Linked DNA regions of Homo sapiens: regions 1 and 2 are each linked to region 3. The links come from fine-mapping of genetic effects on gene expression. A gene starts in region 3. Each other region holds a variant in brackets. All regions are shown on one strand. Distances are from middle to middle.

Region 1 (6,183 bases), 27 kb after region 3:
TCCCCAAAAATTCCTATTGTTGTTTCATATGGCACATGAGCCAGTGTTTTCAGAATTCGTATACACAGGACTTGTTAAGTATTGACAGTGGCAAGAAACCTCATGGTTTGGGTTTAGGTTAACCACCATTATTTATTTCCTTAGTCTTTTATTTCACTCAAAAGGAGATAACTTAAATTGAAGAGAGGGCAGGAAACTTAAAACTGTATAAAAGATTATCTGGAAAATACAAACATAGTGTTTGTGGTGAACTAAAATACATATGAAAGCTCTGTACACATAAGTCAGTGATAAAAAGTGCTACATTCAGAAATACTTGCAAAACATTTCCTCTTGTGGGAAACGGTGATAATTCTACTGCACTGCCTTTATGGGTTTGTAAATTATGACAACTATGGCAGAAGTATTTTAATAAAAATACTTTAAAAATTCTATCAGAAGTTAATATTTATTTTTCTTATTTTGCTATTTTTTTCATATTTATCCTGAATAGATTATTCTACAGTTGTATATAACAATAAAATTGTTATCAAGAAAAACATTGATCTTAAAAAATTTATTTCAGGGAATTATACTTCTACACTGCACCTATTTTTATGAACAAAGCAGTCTAGATATCTCTTTAAAACTCTGAAAACGTCAGACATGTCTCAGAACTTTTTTTTCTTACACATATGAATAGATAGAAACACCTTGAAATTTTGTACTTTTTTCTTTAGCCTCCCATTAACTCTTTTTTTTTTTTTTTTTGAGATGGAGTCTCACTTTCTTGCCCAGGCTGGAGTACAGTGGCACAGTCTGGGCTCACTATAGTCTCTACCTCCTGGGTTCAAGCTATTCTCCTGCCTTAGCCTCCCAAGTAGCTGGGACTATAGGCATGCACCACCACGCCTGGCTAATTTTTGTATTTTTGGTAGAGACGGGGTTTCAGCCTGTTGGCCTTGCTGGTCTTGAACTCCTGACCTCAGGTGATCCACCCCCTGCCCTCAGCCTCCCAAAGTACTAGGATTACAGGCATGAGCCACCTGGTCCCATTAACTCTTTTAATTTTGGGATAGAATCTGACGCTGTGGATTATTAGTATGCCAATTTAATTTTTTTCTGATTAAAAGATCGTCATCACCTAGAAGCATTTACTATATGTTTGGTATATGTTGGTAGCTCTACTTCCCTTTGAAAATCATCACTTTAAGGGAATTGTGGGATATAGATTATGATCATCACATAATAATTTTAACAGATATGTTCATTTTATTTCACATAATTGAAGATATTTTCTTTTGGATTTCGTTTTAGAGACTGTCATGCAGTTCCTTGAAAAACTATCTGACAAACTTTCTGAAAGGTTAGTTTTTATTCTACTATTTAGTTTTTTGGTTATATGTTATTTAGTCTTTTTAAAGAAGACTTGATTTATAAAAAATTAGGAAGTGACCTAGAATATAAGTTTTGGCATATTGGACCAGACCTGTCTCACTATGAGACATACTTTAAAAGGCCATAGTTGTCTTCCTTATGTGCCATTCTTGAAAACATAAGCTGTCCCCTTTCATTAAACAATTGTTTTTAGAAATTCATCTTTCATTTGCACTTTAAAAATCTTTACCAAAATGTTTTTGAAACTATTTATTTTAACTTGTACCATGAATTTTATGACAAGTTCATAAAGTAGTATTTCTCTTCTTTTGGCCTAAATACAGGAGGCTCATGGATGTGGTGTCTTTTTAATTTTGTGTAGTATTTTAAGGATGTTCTATCTCAACATTTGTAATTTCAAGCTGAAGTGTTCTACTGCCTTTGGTGTGTCCGTTTGTTATAACAAGTTGAGTGTCCCTTATCTGAAATGCTTGGGACCACACATGTTTTGGATTTCATTTTTTGGGGGGAATTTGGAATATTTGCATATACATAATGAGATATCTTGGGGATGGGACCCAAGTCTAAACACGAAATTCATTTATGTTTCATATACACCTTATACACATAGCCTGAAGATAATTTTATACAGTGTTTTTAATAATTTTGTGCCTGAAACAAAGTTTTGGCTGCAACCTATCACATGACATCACATGTGGAATTTTCCACTTGTACCATCATGTCAGTGCTGAGAAAGTTTCAGATTTTCAGATTAGGGAGGCTCAACCTGTATTCCTGCCTCCCCTGCCCCTCCCCTGCTCAGTGCCTTCGATCATACACTTGCCCTTCACTGGCCCTCTTCTAGGCCTTAGTTGAGAGGCAGCACACCTTTAGGTACTAAGGATTCTAGGAAGAAGCAGTCACCGTTTGTAAAAAAGGATGATGTTTTCTCTTTTTCTCTTGTAATGCTGTCTAAAATTTTGTTTGCCTGTTGTGGCTACACCAACACATTGGATCTTGGCTCACATTTCTGTTTTGGACTATAAACTCATGCCTTAGAACTCATTCTTCTCTAGTTTGGATTATGTTTATAAATTCTAAAATTTTCTTTTAATGATCCTGGTGAACCACTGTGTCTTTGATACAATAAAGAAAGAGGGTTAGTTATGCACTTATTGAGGATTTATCCTGCTTTACTTAGTTAAGTGTTAGTAGTCTTTCTCTACATAGCTATAGATTTTAGAGCAAGCATAGCTTCATCATTTTACAGGTATATATAGGAATTAATTCCAATATACATGTCATATTCTACAAATATTAAATACCTATTTAATTATTGACCAGCTAGAGTTTTTCCAAAGGGGAAAAATGACTAGAAATCTTAAATGTAGCCAATGATAAAATTCCTTTCTAGGAGTTAATTTGTTAAGTCTCTTTTAAAGGTATAGCAAAAAGTAGTGATTTAAAGTTAGTGATTAATGCTTTGCATATTTGTAATGACATTGC[T/A]AGTTTTTCCAAGCTTTAGTACTCTTGAGACATTTATCCACCATGATGCTTTTTAAGGTAGAAATCGCAGTAATATGCTGCTTTATATATTGTTATTTCTCATGACACTTAGGTAAAATTTGGATTAATAGTGATTTATGTGTGCACTACTAATTGTATCTAATCTTATGAATATTGGAATGTAACATAAGCAAACTAGTCCTTTCATAATGTAATTGTTAAAATTTTGTCCTAACAAGTAATGATAAACCTGTTTTATAGAACTCTGAAAGATTTTGAGATGATACGAGGGATGAAAATGAAACTGAATCCTCAAAATTCCGTAAGTATGTTGGAATATTTTTATTATAATATAGACAGTCTGTCAACTGAAATCAATATCTTTTGATTCAGGAACTTTCTTGTGATAGGCTACAGGTCCATTTAGTCTTGTTTCTGATCCTCGGTTTTGGTGAATAAAGATGTTGAAATATTTGATTCTTATGTCCCAAACTGATGTTGCCTGTACATACAGCATTTTTGTTGAGGAGTCGACATATTTTATGTATATACACTAACACAATGTGTATATATTCATGCAAAGACTGCTTTCATTCTGTGGAATGTTGGCTTCTCAGTTTGAAGCAGACTTTAAGGAGACTCAGTGGAGGCTTCATCTGGCAGGTGGCAATTTTAACCATCAGTGTTAATGTTGCAGTTCATTTGCTTATTTGTTAGCTAATTTATGGTGCCCAATTGAGTATTTGACTAACAAAGTATACCACATTCTAAAAACACTTAAGTGTTGTTTTCAATCATATGATTATATGATCTTCCTTATGTGATCCAAGAGTATAGACAAGTATTGTTATGGCCAGAATGCTGCCCAGGTGATTGGGGGAGTGCCCTGAAAAGTGTCGAGAGTCCAGATATTAGGACTCATTCCCATTTGGTTCTAGGGCACTACAGGATTGCCGGGGTTGTCTACACCATTCTTTTCCAAATGCTGTTATTAGTTCTTGACTTAGTTGCTGCTGCCAGAGCCATAGTCATAAGGAAGATTTAGGGAAATGGGCCTTGCAGATTTACAAACTGTTTACTAGCTTCCCAGATACAGCCACTAGGAAACAGATTAATCCCATTAAACTCAGCGATGTGTAGAGTAGCATGTCAGTCTGTTAATTTATGGAAGGAGCTGTGTCTAGCAAAGTAACTACTGTTAGTCATCTGCACAGTCATCTGCACACCTTGACCTGGTAGGTAGGCTTATTTGGGAAACCAGATAATAGGTAAGAATTTAGTTTGGTGACTATAGAAACAGAAAAATAAAAAACAAAATGTGTTGCCAAAAGCTAATTCAGTAAAAGTGAATATGACTTTAAACTGTTATCTGTAGATATTTGTATATAGCTTATGGATACAATTATTCTGCAGATATTTGTGAAATGCCCAATCTCCTCATGAAGTCCCTGCTTTGGTGAATGGTGCCACCATTCACCCTGCTGCTCTGGTCAGGACCTATACTTAATCCAGACCAGTGGTTCTCAAAGTGTGGTTCCTGGACCAGAAGCAGTAGCATCACATGGGAGCCTGTTAGAAATGCAAATTCTTGAGCCCCACCTCAGACCCACTGAATCAAAAACTGGGGTGAGCTCCACAATCTGTGTTTCAACAAGCACCCCAGGCACTGCACACTCCCCTCCCCCATAATCATTTGTTAGGTCCTGCAGATTCTCCCTCCCTGTGAACTCTTGTGTCTTCTCCTGTGCCCATTGCCATAGCCTGGGCTATGATCCCAATCATTATTCTCACCCAGATGGTAACTGGGATTGCCTAACTGGTTTCTAGCCTTTTGTTTTTGCTCCACTCGAAGCCGTCTTGGATTCAGACAGTTTAGCCATGTATTTAGCCCAGTGTTAGGCATAGAATTGGTTGTCAACACTTATTTGAACTATGAATGAATAATGAATGAATGAATTGCCACCAGAGGGATTTGTCTAAAAAGCAGATCTGATCTTGTCACTCTGTTGTTTAAAATTATTCAGTAGCTCCTGGTTATTCTCCAGTTTCCCTTCCTACTACCCTGCTGCTCCCGCCAAGCCCTCATGATTTGGCCCTTGCCTCCTTCTCTAGCTTCATCTTCTGCTGCCCCTCCAAGCCGAGGCTGTGTTCTTTGCTCTCTCCTAATACCTGTGTGATGCTCATGTGATCTCTATTCACTTAGTTTTGCTTTCTTTCCTTGCTTTGCTTTCTTTGATTCTTTAATTTGAATTAATATTTACGTGCCGGCCACATAAATATGGCATGGTGAGCAGCTTCCAGTCATTTACAAACACCACCTACAGGAATGCCTTTCTCCCTTTCTCATCTGGATTAACTGCTTCTATCATAAAACTCAATTCAGGCTTTGCCTTCTTGAGAACATTTCCTAACCTTCCGCTGTGATTTAAATACTCTTCTTGTGGGCTGTGTTTTACATGGCACAATGTAGACATGACATACTGTCCTCTGATTGTTGAGTCACTTGCCCTTCTACTGCCTAGGCTATCATCCTCTTGTTTTTGTCTGATTACAGCCTGCACTCTGTCTGCATCTAGCAGATAGCAAATAATCATCTGTTAGAGAAAATGTGTGCCAGGACCAGAACACTGTGGGGCTAGGGTTCCATGGACGCAGTCCCTGCCCTTCAGGCACTCATGAGGAGAAAGAAAATAAGCCTACAAGTATCTTAGGTTGTCATGCATCCCATGATATAAGTATTACCATGGAATATGGGAAATAACACCTTGTTATTGGAGGAGATTATGCCTAAACTGAAATGTTAAAGGATAATGGTAATAAGGAGAGTAGCCAACATTTGTTGAGCCCTTACTCAATGCCAGATATTCTACTTAATAGTTTAAGTACATTCAGCAGTCTTCTTTGGGAGGTACTGTTGATTCTTTCAACAAATATTTACTGAGTGACTACCCTGGGCCAGGTACTGTTCAGGGGACAGGAATGTAATAGGGAAGGATGCAAACAAAGTCCCTGTCATCATGCAGTTTATAGTCTGGTATGGATTGGAAACTTGAGCCCAGGCAGTCTGTCTTCACAGCCTGGTCTCTTAACCACTCTTTTGTCCACCTGGACACCTAGAAGGAAGGACAGTCATTCAAGTATTCAAGCTTTCCCTTCTTTCAGTATTATGTGCCAATCATCAAAAGCAACTAGTACTATAGTACTTCTTTATGACATATTTTCTTTGCCAAGATTAGAGTTAATTCTGCCTTGGTTACATTTTAAATTGCTGCTTTCATTTTTGATATCTACCCAAAGCTTCTTGCTTAGATTTAGAAAGAA
Region 2 (6,397 bases), 86 kb after region 3:
TTGTTAGATCCAGCGGGTCTAAAGTTGTAACTGGTTTTGTATATTTCTGCCTACAGATAGATAGATAGATAGATAGATAGATAGATAGATAGATAGATAGATATAGATTTTTTTGTTGTTGTTGTTGTTTTTTGTTTGGTTTTTTTTTTTGAGACGGAGTCTCTCCCAGGCTGGAGTGCAGTGGAGCAATCTCGGCTCACTGCGAGCTCCGCCTCCCAGGTTCACGCCATTCTCCTGCCTCAGCCTCCCGAGTAGCTGGGACTAGAGGTGCCTGCCACCACGCCTGTCTAATTTTTTTGTATTTTTAGTAGAAACGGGATTTCACTATGTTAGCCAGGATGGTCTTGATCTCCTGACCTCGTGATCCTCCCGCCTCGGCCTCCCAAAGTGCTGGGATTACAGGCGTGAGCCACCGCGCCTGGCCTTCCGTCTACATATATTTTGGCAAAATTCCAGTTTTGTGTCACATATTTGATTTGCTGCCATTGTACATAAAGAGTATCTTATGGGTATGGTTCAAAATTCTTTAATATTCTTATTTATGAAAAGGTTGAGAGCATTCCTTTTAATCTTTAGCATGGTCTTAAATGTGGTATGAAATACATTTCAAACCATGTAAGTTTATTTTTGTGACTGTTTTCAACTGTGATTGGTAACTGTTGTTCTGGTGCACTTATAGCATCTTTGGTCAACCACATCTTGATGTGAGGATGGACGACCAAAACTAAGTAGATGTTTTTATCTATCTAGGTCTTTTATGCCACTCTGGATCAAATCTACCATGGGAAGCATCCCCTGAGGAATTCAACCACAGACATTCTCAAGGAAACACAAGAGAAATTCTATGGCCTACCATATGTTCCAAATACTGTGAGTCCAGCATTTGGCTTCTGTTTTGTGTATTGAGTGGTTCTGCTATTACTTCTGTAGCTTGTGATTATCTTCCCCTTTGGAGAACTTGAAATCCCTACATTTATGTTGAGGCTTCACATGGCTCAAATGCTGGAAATTGCCTGGTTCATTTAATATTTCCAACTACCCATTTATATGTTCTTATTTTCCTCCCTCTAACAGTGTTTTTGTACCTTTTTGGAAATGTGGGGGTTAAAAAGGCCATTGGAGTTGGTCTATATTCTTCTTTTTAGTTATTTTTCTACAATGTGAAAAATAGTGATGTAAGATGAATGTGATTACCAGTCCTGAATCATTTTCATTGCAAAGAGAATTAACATGTATTGAGTATCTTACATTGTACCAGGAATTATAATAGATGCTTTACATATCTTATCTTGTTGAGTACCATGTCAGGAGAGAGAGCAGGAGTAATGTTACCATTTATTGGATTCTAGGCGCCAGACTCTATCTAATTCCTTTGGGAAAAGATCTCTAATTTAGCTCTCAAAATAACCTTATAAATTAAATTATATCCTTGTATTTGGGGCTCATTTGGAGGCACAGACACATTATATGTCCTGTCTGAGATCATCTAGGTAGTTAAGTGATTGTATGGGGGTTCAAAACAAACAGGCTTTTTTCATCACTCAAAGGCTCGTGTAAGGAGCAGTTGAGCACCGTGACTCCTAGTGCAATTAACAGTGTGATTCTTGGTGCAGTTAGCAATGTGACTGACTTAATGTTACCCAGGCCTTTCTCAGCTGCAAGTGATAGAAACGTGGTTCACACGGACTTAAACAGAAAAGGGAATTTATTGAGTCTTGTAACTGAAAGGTGCAGGGGTATAGGGGTGTTTCAAGTAAGTTGGATTTAGGTCTCCCACAATGTCGTTAGAAATGTTTCTCTCTCTTTCTGCCTCTCAGCTCGGTGTTTTTCTGGGTTCCTTTCATTCTCTGGCAATCCCCCCAGACTGAATGGTTTGATAACTACCGGTAGGTTCAGGTCGATGTCCTTCTAGCCTAGTTGGTCTAACAGAAGGAGAGCTAACTTGAAAGTGTTTTGTAAACTATAAAAAGCAGAATAAATGTCAAGTGGTTTTATTTGCTCTAAGATTGGATAGCAGAATATGTTGTGCTAAGAGATTAAGTTAATCAATAAACTACAATTGTCCACTAAATCTTCAGGTCCTAATGCTCAAATATGCATGGGAAGAGATCGTATTTACCAGACAAGTGAAGCAACAGGATATTTTATCTTCATAATACCTCTTGTCATTAGTTTTCGATTGGCTTAGAACCTTAATTATCTGCTACAGGTATATAATGTCAGTCATACTAACTAATTTTTTAATCTTACATGTAATTTACTATTCTAATACTTTCTACTGCCAAGCTCTTGATTATCTGTGTTAGTGAAAATTTATAGTGATAAGAATAATCTAACTATTTATTCATGGAATAAATAATAACAATTGCCTAGATTTTACTAGCATTTTCCAGTTCACAGAGCATTGCCTGATTCACCTGCTTTTGGGCTTGTATGTTTTTGTTCTCATCTTATATTCTTCTTTGTGAATATGAGTTAAACTTCATGACCAGTAAGTAGTAAAGTCCTAGGAAGACTAACATTAGGAGAACTGGGATGCTTGCCAAAGCTACAAAACTTCAGTTTGACTGAGTTGCTTGCCTTCTGCCCTTTTTTATCGTAGGTCTAATAATAAAGTAATTATGTCTCTTTTTAAAAGAAAACTTCCTTACCATCCAGATTTCTTCTCTGTAATCATTTAACATACAAATATGAAGTATTAGTGGCAACCAAATTCTGAATCAACAATCCATAAATCACTTTTAATTTGAAAGGAAGGGTGATGCTAAGTCCGTGTGCCTTGTCCTAATTCCTTTTGAGAAAATAGAAAGATGTATCTCTTTACTGGGATTAGCTCCACAATTCACGTTCAGTAGCCATCACTTGCTCTTTGTGTAAATTGTTTTAAGAGGTCTTTAAAAGAAGCATAGCTATGTTTAGAGAAAAAAAGACATTATTTTAAGGCTTGCCTTTAAAAAAAAGTGTCTGAGAGTTTGTTTAGATTTGTACAGATAGCCTACTCTTCCTACTTAGAAACTTCTGCATTTCTTCATTTGTTTGTCAATGCATTCATCAAGCCTATAACATTCCCGACATCAAGTTGGTGGACTTGACCACCAACTTGAATTCAAATAAAGCTGTAGGAATTAAGACAGTCTAACACTGGTGTAGGGATGCACAGATATCAGTGAAACAGGAGCAAGAGCCCAACGGCAGACTCAGCAAATTAATAGACTCTCAAATATAGGTTGAGTGACACTGTAGATTATTGGATGAAGAAGGAACAATTTTTTAAAGTGGTGTTGTAGTGATTGATCTCTATATGGAAAAAAAAATGCAGCCCTGTATCACACTGCACACAAAAAATAGAGTTAAAGACCGAGATGTGAAAAGTAAAGCTTTAAATTTTAGAAGATAATACAAAAGAATTTTTTCTTTTTGATAGTGTTTTTGTTGTTGTTGTTGTTGTTGTTGTTTTGAGATGGAGTCTTGCTTTGACTCCTAGTCTGGAGTGCAGTGGCGCAGTATTGGCTCACTGCAACCTCTGCCTCCTGGGTTCAAGCAATTCTCCTTCCTCAGCCTCCTGAGTAGCTGGGATTACAGGTGTGCGCCACCACTCCTGGCTAACTTTTGTTTTTTTAGTAGAGACGGGGTTTCACCATGTTGGCCAGGCTGGTCTCGAACTCCCAACCTCAGATAATCCACCTGTCTTGGCCTCCCAAGGCTGAGGATTACAGGCATGAGCCACCGCGCCTGGCCATGATAGTGTTTTTTATACCCACTCTGAGTATCTT[A/G]TATTTTATACAGATGCTTCTCAACTTATGATGCGGTCAAGTCCCAATAACCCATTGTAAGTTGAAACTATCATAAGTCAAAAATACATTTAATACCCCTACACTGCTGAATGTCATAGCTTAGCCTAGCCTACCTTAAATGTGCTCAGAATGCTTATGTTAGCCTACAGTTGGGCAAACTCATCTAACACAAAGTCTATTTCATAATAAAGTGTTGAATATCTCATGTAATTTATTGAATACTGCACTGAAAGTGAAAAACAAAATGGTTGTCAGGCACCCAAAGTACAGTTTCTATTGAATGCATATTGCTTTCACACCACTGTGGAGTTGAAAAATCTTAAAGTTAAAAAATCTTTAAGTTGGGGATCTTCTAGATACAATGGAAAGCCATTAAACATAAAGCAAAAGACTGACAAATTCAATGATATTTAAAGTTAAATACCACATAGCATAAAACTGACTTCCCCCCCTGCCTTCAGATGGAGTCTCACTCTATTGCTCAGGCTGGAGTGCAGTGGTGCAGTCTCGGCTCACTGCAACCTTTGCCTCCTGGGTTCAAGCGATTCTCTCACCTCAGCCTCCTGAGTAGCTGGGATTACAGGCACCTGCCACCATACCTGCCTAATTTTTTAGTGGAGACAGGGTTTCACCATGTTGGCCAGGCTGGTCTTGAACTCCTGACCTCAAATGATCTGCCTGCTTCCACCTCCCAAAGTGCTAGGATTACAGGTGTGAGCCACCATGCCCGGCCATTGGAAAAGGTTATATTTTTAAATTACTTTGAATAAACAAAAGACATGGATATGCAAAAAATGACGTAAAATAACTTAAATATTAATCAGGGAATGCACATTAAAACCACATTACAATACTCCTAAAATATTTTACTATCACTGGTTTGGCAAAAAATAAAACAATTGACAGTATCAGATGTTGGCAAGGATGTGGAGTCACAGGAACTCTTATACACTGCAGGTAGGAGAGCAAATTGGTATAACCACTTTGCAGAACAGATCTGTGAAATCTGAATATGGACTGCCCTATGACCCAGCAATTCAATTCCTAATATAACCTAGAAAAAAAAATGTTTTACTTTCTCTACCAGGTATACTTTTCTGTACCAGGCATGAAAAAATAGGAGGGTTTATAACAGCACTTGTTGTAAGTAGTTAAAAAAAAGGTGAGGGGGAGGATTCCGGGAAGAACCCAAGTGATTGTCATCAGAGAAATGGATAAACAATTTGTTCATACAGCTGGAATACTGTTCAGCTATGGAAATTGAGGGCCCCAGTTGATGAGCCTAACAAGCATAAGGTAAAGTGAAATAAATGAATACCAGATGAATCAAACTAGTACATTTATATAAAGTTCAGAGTGATGCAAAACTAAGCAGTACATTGTCAGATAAATACATATGTGATTAGACTATAAAGAAAAGTGAGGGAATTATAAGCACAGAATTCATAGGAGTGGATTCACAGGAGTCTTAGAAATATTTTCTTAAACTGATTGGTGGGTACATGGTTGATGACTTTGTCATTCTTTCTACTAATAGTAGACATATAGTCTTGGTAGATAGAAAACACTTCCAAGGATTAAAAGGTGATCTGGGCTACAAGGTATGGGGTATGCCAAGAATGGACCTTGGCAAAGCTGCTGGTGGCTCAAACTAGGACACTGACTGTGGGGAGTGGAAGATTGAAACAGACCTGAGAACAGTGCAGAAGGCATAATCAGTGCAGTGGGGGTGACTGGATATATGGGTTGGGATGATGAGCAAGATCCACGGGAATGGGACAACTGCAAGGCTTTCAACTTCCATATCGGATAGAAGATGACTTTGTAGCGCCTTCCCATGCGGGCCAAAGAGTGACAGTGTTCCCCCTGTAAACTTGTCTCCAGAAATTGTTTCTCTGAAATGAATCCTTTTATTCCCCCAAATTAAACAATGAGAAAAGGAAAATATAAGCAACGAAGAGTCTTTATAATGCTTATGGAGTTGATACAAATTTAGGTACATAATCTGGTACAAACTTTTAGACAGTGATTTTGCATATGTCTATATTAGCAATTCTTTAAGTGCATTAATAACTCATCTTGGGAATAAAGTGTCGCACTAGTTATCTTTGAGCAATACTGGTTTAAACAACATTGAGCTGGCTTCTCTACTGAGGAACCGCTTGGAGTCTGTAATATGCTAACAAACATTATGAGTCTCTATCCTCAAATGTATTAACCCTGGAAGTCTTCATGGATAATTTCTAGGCACTAGCTTTATGTAGGTCATACTTTGGAAAATTGCATTTACATGACTGTAACTATTTAATAGGGGCAGCTCCACAGATATTCCATATTAAATAATGATGCTTTCTTTACAAGTCAATAAATAGCCTTCTAGTGTCGGCAATTTATTGATATTTGTGTGCATGCTGAGTCACTCTGTATAAAATATAGGCTAATTTGTACTTACTTGCTATTCCATCTAACAGTAGTTTGATGCTGGAAATCCAAAATTTTCTACTCATTTGTGAATAGAGGGCAATAGTACAACATATACCAACAGGCTCACCTTCTGCTGTTACCACTTCTCTTCCATTTAGAGAACAGTGTTGTGTTGTTGT
Region 3 (6,397 bases):
GTTAATTTTTGTACTTTTTGCAGAGATGAGGTTTTGCCATGTTGCCTAGCCTGATCTTGAATTCCTGGACTCAAGTAGTCTGCCTCTCTTGGCCTCCCAAAGTGCTAGGATTACAGGCATAAGCCACTGAGCTGGGCTGGAGTAATTGAATTTTATTTTCTTATTTTTTTATTATTTTTATTTTTTTAGAGTCAGGGAATTGCTATGTTGGCCGGGATGGTCTTGAACTCTTGGCCTCAGGCAGTCCTCCTGCCGCGGTCTCCCAAGGTGCTAGGATTACAGGTGTGAGCCACCGCACCCAGATGGAGTAATTGAATTTTAAACTCTGGGCATATACTGAACCTGTGTACTACTTTGTTTCATTTGTGAGCTCAATTATAGAAAAACCAAAGTTGTTCACAAGGGAATCTTTCACAAACTATCTCTTTATTTGCTCTTTCTCTATTTAGGAGCAGATGGAAAAGTTGAAGCAAAAGGCATCAAAGGTGATCAAGGCTCAAGAGGATCCCCAGGAAAACATGGCCCCAAGGGGCTTGCAGGGCCCATGGGAGAGAAAGGCCTCCGAGGAGAGACTGGGCCTCAGGGGCAGAAGGGGAATAAGGGTGACGTGGGTCCCACTGGTCCTGAGGGGCCAAGGGGCAACATTGGGCCTTTGGGCCCAACTGGTTTACCGGGCCCCATGGGCCCTATTGGAAAGCCTGGTCCCAAGGGAGAAGCTGGACCCACGGGGCCCCAGGGTGAGCCAGGAGTCCGGGGAATAAGAGGCTGGAAAGGAGATCGAGGAGAGAAAGGGAAAATCGGTGAGACTCTAGTCTTGCCAAAAAGTGCTTTCACTGTGGGGCTCACGGTGCTGAGCAAGTTTCCTTCTTCAGATGTGCCCATTAAATTTGATAAGATCCTGTATAATGAATTCAACCATTATGATACAGCAGTGGGGAAATTCACGTGCCACATTGCTGGGGTCTATTACTTCACCTACCACATCACTGTTTTCTCCAGGAATGTTCAGGTGTCTTTGGTCAAAAACGGAGTAAAAATACTGCACACCAGAGATGCTTACGTGAGCTCTGAGGACCAGGCCTCTGGCAGCATTGTCCTGCAGCTGAAGCTCGGGGATGAGATGTGGCTGCAGGTGACAGGAGGAGAGAGGTTCAATGGCTTGTTTGCTGATGAGGACGATGACACAACTTTCACAGGGTTCCTTCTGTTCAGCAGCCAGTGACAGAGGAGAGTTTATAAATCTGCCAGACCATCCATCAGAATCAGCTTGGGATGAACTTATTCAGATGGTTTTACTTTATTAATTCCTCCAATTATTACAATAATCATAAAAAGGTGAAAACGGAAAAGTTATTCCCAAAACTGATTCTATGTAACTTACTATTTTTCCAGGAGTAAATATTTAAAATAGCTGCATGGTTTATTCTAATTTATTTCACATTTCTTATTCCTATTATCTGAAGAATCCTTTGTCTGTGCATTTCTTGTGGGAAGAGTGTTTTGATATCATTTTAGTGCTCTGAGGAGTCATATGAAGATGTATCCCTCATCTGTGTTTCTGAGGACATTAAGGGGAAATTAGAGGGAAATGTTTATTCCATTTAGTACTAGTAACAGCTTTAAGCTGGTGATGCTGTCACACTCCAGAAAGCTGTAGACACTGCTCATTTTGTCTTTTTTTAAAAAATGTATTTTTAAGTTCTGGAATACATATGCAGAACGTGCAGGTTTGTTACATAAAAATGTGCTGTGGTGGTTTGCTGCATCTGTCAACCCATCACCTATGCAGGTATTAAGCCCTGCATGCATTAGCTATTTGTCCTGGTGCTTTCCCTCCCATTTTGCTCATTTTCTAACCTAGGTTTTAATCACCATTCTATCCAACAAATCATTGTTTGATCATTATTTGCCAGACATGAATCTCTACTTGTTTTCTAGGATCGCCCTAATAAAGTACACAAACTGGGAGTCTTTAAACAACAGAAACGGACTTTCTCACAGTTCTGTAGGCTGGAAGTTTGAGATCACCGTAGCAGCAGGGCCATCCTCCCTCCAAAGGGGATACAGGAGGATGCAGCCTTGCTGCTTCCAGCTTCTGGCAGCTGGTGGCAGCATCACTCCAGTCCCCGCCTCCATCTTCAGGTGGCTGTCCTCCTCCTGTATCAGCCAAATTTTCCTCTTCTTACAAGAACAGCTTCCCTAATCTAGTATGACCCATCTTAATCATAATTGCAAACTCCATATTTTCAAATAAGGTCACATGTACAGGCACCGAGGGTTAGGACTTCAGCATCTATTTTGGGAGACACAGTTCAACCCAATCTGCCCTCTGGTTCCCAAAATTGATTTCCTTCTCATGTGCAAAATACATTTTCGCACCATGTCAACATTACCAAAAGTCTTAACACTTTCCGCATCAACTCCTCTCACCATCTACATCATTTAAATAAGCTACAGAGGAGACTTACTGTGTGATTCATCGTGTGGCAAAATGTCTCTCCATCTGTGATCCTGTGAAGCGAGACGAGTTAATCCACTTCTAAAAGACCGGGGGTTGGAGGGGGAGACAGGCATAGGGTAGACAATCCATTCCAAAAGAGAGAAAGGGGAAGGAAAAAAGGGTTCACGGGTCCCAGGCAATTCTGAAACCCTGGAGGGAAAATCCCATTAGACTTCTTTCACTATTTCCCATCTAAAATTTTTAACTGAGCTATGCAAGAGTAAAAAGTTACCGGACAGAGACACCAAACAGAGAAGTGCAGGATAAATTTACCAAGAGAGTAGGTTAAAAGGGAAACTTCTCCTTCAGGCCTATGGTGGGCATTTCTTGTTTACTCAAGTACCTGCCGTCTCTCAAAGAATATCTAATGTCCACTGGAATTCGAATATGTCATGATTTTACTCGCGCCCACCCCTAGTCAACTTGGGAGGGAAGCGCAACCCTAGCCTTTTCTTACTCTGGACACAGGGGGCGGTAAACCGGGAGGGCGGCCGAGAAGGCGAGGGGGAGCGACGCTCTTGCTCTCTGGACGACAACGTGCCCACGTCCTGAGGCCGCGCCCAGACCCGGAAGCGGGGCCGTCACGTGGGGCGGCGTGGGCTGCTGCCTTGGAAACGCGGAGCGCGCGCTCCCAGCGAAAGCAGCAGGGCAGGGATCTGCGTTGGAGGAAGGGACTGCTCTGGTGCTAGAATGCTGTGCGTCGGAAGGCTGGGCGGCTTGGGAGCCAGAGCAGCAGCTCTGCCGCCCCGCCGGGCGGGCCGGGGAAGCCTCGAAGCCGGGATCCGGGCCCGAAGGGTCAGCACCAGCTGGTCTCCCGTGGGCGCCGCCTTCAATGTCAAGCCCCAGGGCAGCCGCTTGGACCTGTTCGGCGAGCGCCGGGTGAGCGGCGCAGGAGGAGCTCCCCTCAGTCCCCGAGCTAAGCCGACCCCTGCTCCGCGCGGCCAGCAACAATCAGGGCGAGATTGTTTGGGCCTGGGAGGAGGCGAGCAGCGAACCCACCTTTTACAGTGGCGTCTTGTGTGCGCTCTCGATGAGGGCAAGGTCACCTCTGCTTTGAGGGGCCGGGTTTAGTGGTCTCCTACCCAGAGTGTCGGGTCCGGGAACTGCTTCTGCATGAGCCCCTTGCTCCACGTGAATCTGAATAGTTCGTTCTGGCAGTGGCGGTGAATTCGTCCTGCCAGGACCCGCCCTCTGCATACACTCAGGCGCACCCCTGCTAAAGCCCTTTAGCTCCAGCGCTACAGTCCTGCCTTAAGAGGCCTATCCCTGTGCGTTCACAGGCGGCATCACATGGTCTTTTTGCAAGGACACGGCTGCCTGCAGTCGAGTAATGGTAATTTCATTAATACCTGAAATTCCATCATCTATTAATTAATTTATTTCAAAGCTTTGGGCTTTCTTGTTTTAAAACACAAAACTCTGTTGAGACGAGTCTCACTTCCCATAGTGCCATGGAATTGGTCACTTTGATTTCTTACCCCAGGAAGTCACTAGCCTGCGTTGTCTAGTGAAAGGTGAGAGGAAGGCAAGGTTGGAAAGGACTTACCTGATGCCTGTTCTACTTGGAGTTTGTACATTTTGTCCGTTTTAGGTTAAGGATTACTTTTATTTTTGCCTTTTAAAATTTCGTTATACTGTATTGCCTTATAAAGACAAGTCTAGGGTATTGTTGCACTGAGCTAAAGTGTGTGATTCTTGTTTTATCTCCATTATCAGTTTTGTCTATTTAAAAATTATTTTGTGTGAAATTTGCTACACCACCTTCCTTAAGGGTATGTAGTGTTGGTATTAACATAGTTGGTGTGAAGAGACCTACTTGTAGGCGCTGAGCAGAAAGACGTGAGGGGAAGCCTGATTTTGGGTGGATGAGATATAACTAATTTTAGCTTTTATTTTTCCCTTTTTGTATCATGATATTCGGCACTGATAGCAGATTTTCAAATTTTAGAATTGATTTTTGCCTTGAAAAAAAAAAAGCCTTATTCAGTTTTTTAGCATTATGGTCACTGGTAATCCGATAGTTAGAATTCCCGAGAGCAATATGGGCAGGTTGTACTGGGAAGTGGAAGTAGTCTGTGCTTGAATCAAATTAAATCAGTATAAAGATGACATTTGTTTTTGGTCCTGATTTTCCTTTGTCTCCCACTGACTTTCTTTTATTTTATTTTTTATCTTGTAATATATTTTGAAGAGAGATTACTAGCTTAACTTCATCCATCCCTTCTTGTAGAAACAGTAGGGCTTGTCAGGCCTGAAGGTTTACCTGTTCGTATTTCTGAAAATCTATGCGTTAAGCACCTACAAAGTGAATTAACAAAGCCTAGCATCTGCTCCGGTCACTTGTTTCTTTCATTGAGTTCCCCCATGTGTTAGACATTCTATTGGATAGCTGGTTAAAGAAATGAAGGGCAGGGCTCTTGGGTCTGGAAGCTCACCTTTTCAGGAGAGAAGACTTTCAAACAGATAAATTGTAATAGAGAAGTATGGAAAAGTGTGGGCTTTACAGATGTACAGAGCGGGTTCGAGTTCTGTCTTTCCCAATATTAATTTGTGACCTCAAACAAGTTTTTTCTAACGTCTTAAAGCATGTGGCCTGATCTGTAAAAGAATGATACTCTGTTCTGTAGGATTGTGTGATTTAAATGAGAACCTATGTAAAGTAGCAGGCACACTTCATGGTATGCAGTAGGTGCATATTAAATGCTTTTTCCCCCTGCCTTCCTGAGTGTGCTAACAAGTGTGATTGAATAGGTAACAAGAGAATGGTCATTACCATTAGATCAGTGATTTTTGTTTTTATCAAGATATTGAAATGTCTTTGTAACGTATAAAATTTGCTCCCAGTTTCAGCCTATGATTTTAATATGTTCATTACATTTTTCTAAAATATCTATTGCTTCATAGTCAACTCATCCTCCCTATTTGATAGTTATAGAATAATTGGTACTATGTACTGAGATCTCACCTTGTCAGCTGCTGCTGTTAGTACTTTACATATACTTATTACCTGTATCCATGCTGTAAGGTATGTATCGTCATTCCCATTGTACATGATGAAAAAAATATTTCTCCTAGGAGGAGAAATAACATGACCAGGGTTATAAGCTAATAATAATTATGGCTAACATCTATAAATGCTCTGTGCCAAACACTGCTTTATGTATATATATATATATATTTACATATATGATCTCATTTAATCTTTGCGGCCACTCTTAGGTTCTGTAGAAGTGACAGCTGGATTTTGAACCCATACCATTGTTGTTGTTGTTTTTTCCGGAAAATAATTAAAAATTGAAGAAAAATTATGTTCTGAAAACATTTTTAGTGTAATTTATGTGGAGTGATATGGGGAGTATGATAGTGGTATCTGTGATCACAGGTATAACATGATACACCAATGAAAGTCAAGATCTCCTTTGTGATAAAAGTAATTTTAGTAAATATAAAAAAAGCACAATTTTGAATTTTGGTTATAAATCAGACGTATTCTTTGGTTCTAAGGGTCTTTTTGGAGTTCCTGAGCTGAGTGCCCCAGAAGGATTTCATATTGCACAAGAAAAAGCCTTGAGAAAGACAGAATTGCTTGTGGACCGTGCATGTTCCACCCCACCTGGGCCCCAGACCGTGCTGATCTTCGATGAGCTCTCGGATTCCTTATGCAGAGTGGCCGACTTGGTAAGGTGCTTTACCTCAGACTTGAAGCTACCTCTCTTTCAACTTGTTAAAATTTAAGTGAAATTTATCCTTTGTTGTTTACTATTAATATTAGATTATAAAGTTAAAAATGTCTGAAACTGAGATCCATTGGGTATAATTTTTTATGATGAAATATGTCATTAGGAATGGGAAAATATTATAGGAAAAGGTGATATTTAGAACTTGTACTTTAATACG

The links. PIP is the estimated chance that this variant, and not a neighbour inherited with it, causes the effect.
Region 1: its variant is the best candidate, but not a certain one, in a credible set for the expression of MIPEP in stomach (GTEx, PIP 0.67).
Region 2: its variant is the best candidate, but not a certain one, in a credible set for the expression of MIPEP in pancreas (GTEx, PIP 0.58).

Annotation. Positions count from the first base shown.
Region 1 is chr13:23,859,303-23,865,485 of GRCh38, reverse strand. It overlaps MIPEP (mitochondrial intermediate peptidase), which reads left to right. Exons shown (of 19, transcript NM_005932.4): 8 at 1,297-1,345; 9 at 3,124-3,184. Among named protein-coding and RNA genes, the nearest start is that of PCOTH, 26 kb to the left of the region's middle. The variant T/A (reference allele first, on the strand shown) is at 2,863.
Region 2 is chr13:23,800,423-23,806,819 of GRCh38, reverse strand. MIPEP (mitochondrial intermediate peptidase) reads left to right here. Exons shown (of 19, transcript NM_005932.4): 16 at 751-870. Among named protein-coding and RNA genes, the nearest start is that of PCOTH, 85 kb to the left of the region's middle. The variant A/G (reference allele first, on the strand shown) is at 3,774.
Region 3 is chr13:23,886,114-23,892,510 of GRCh38, reverse strand. MIPEP (mitochondrial intermediate peptidase) reads left to right here and starts at 3,111. Exons shown (of 19, transcript NM_005932.4): 1 at 3,111-3,379; 2 at 6,005-6,178. The coding sequence starts at 3,191. It overlaps C1QTNF9B (C1q and TNF related 9B), which reads left to right. Exons shown (of 5, transcript NM_001007537.3): 5 at 450-1,412. The coding sequence ends at 1,222. PCOTH (prostate and testis expressed opposite C1QTNF9B and MIPEP) reads right to left here and starts at 3,643. Exons shown (of 4, transcript NR_172510.1): 1 at 3,500-3,643; 2 at 2,469-2,511; 3 at 980-1,126; 4 at 408-898. RefSeq lists enhancers at 2,712-2,771, 2,831-3,331.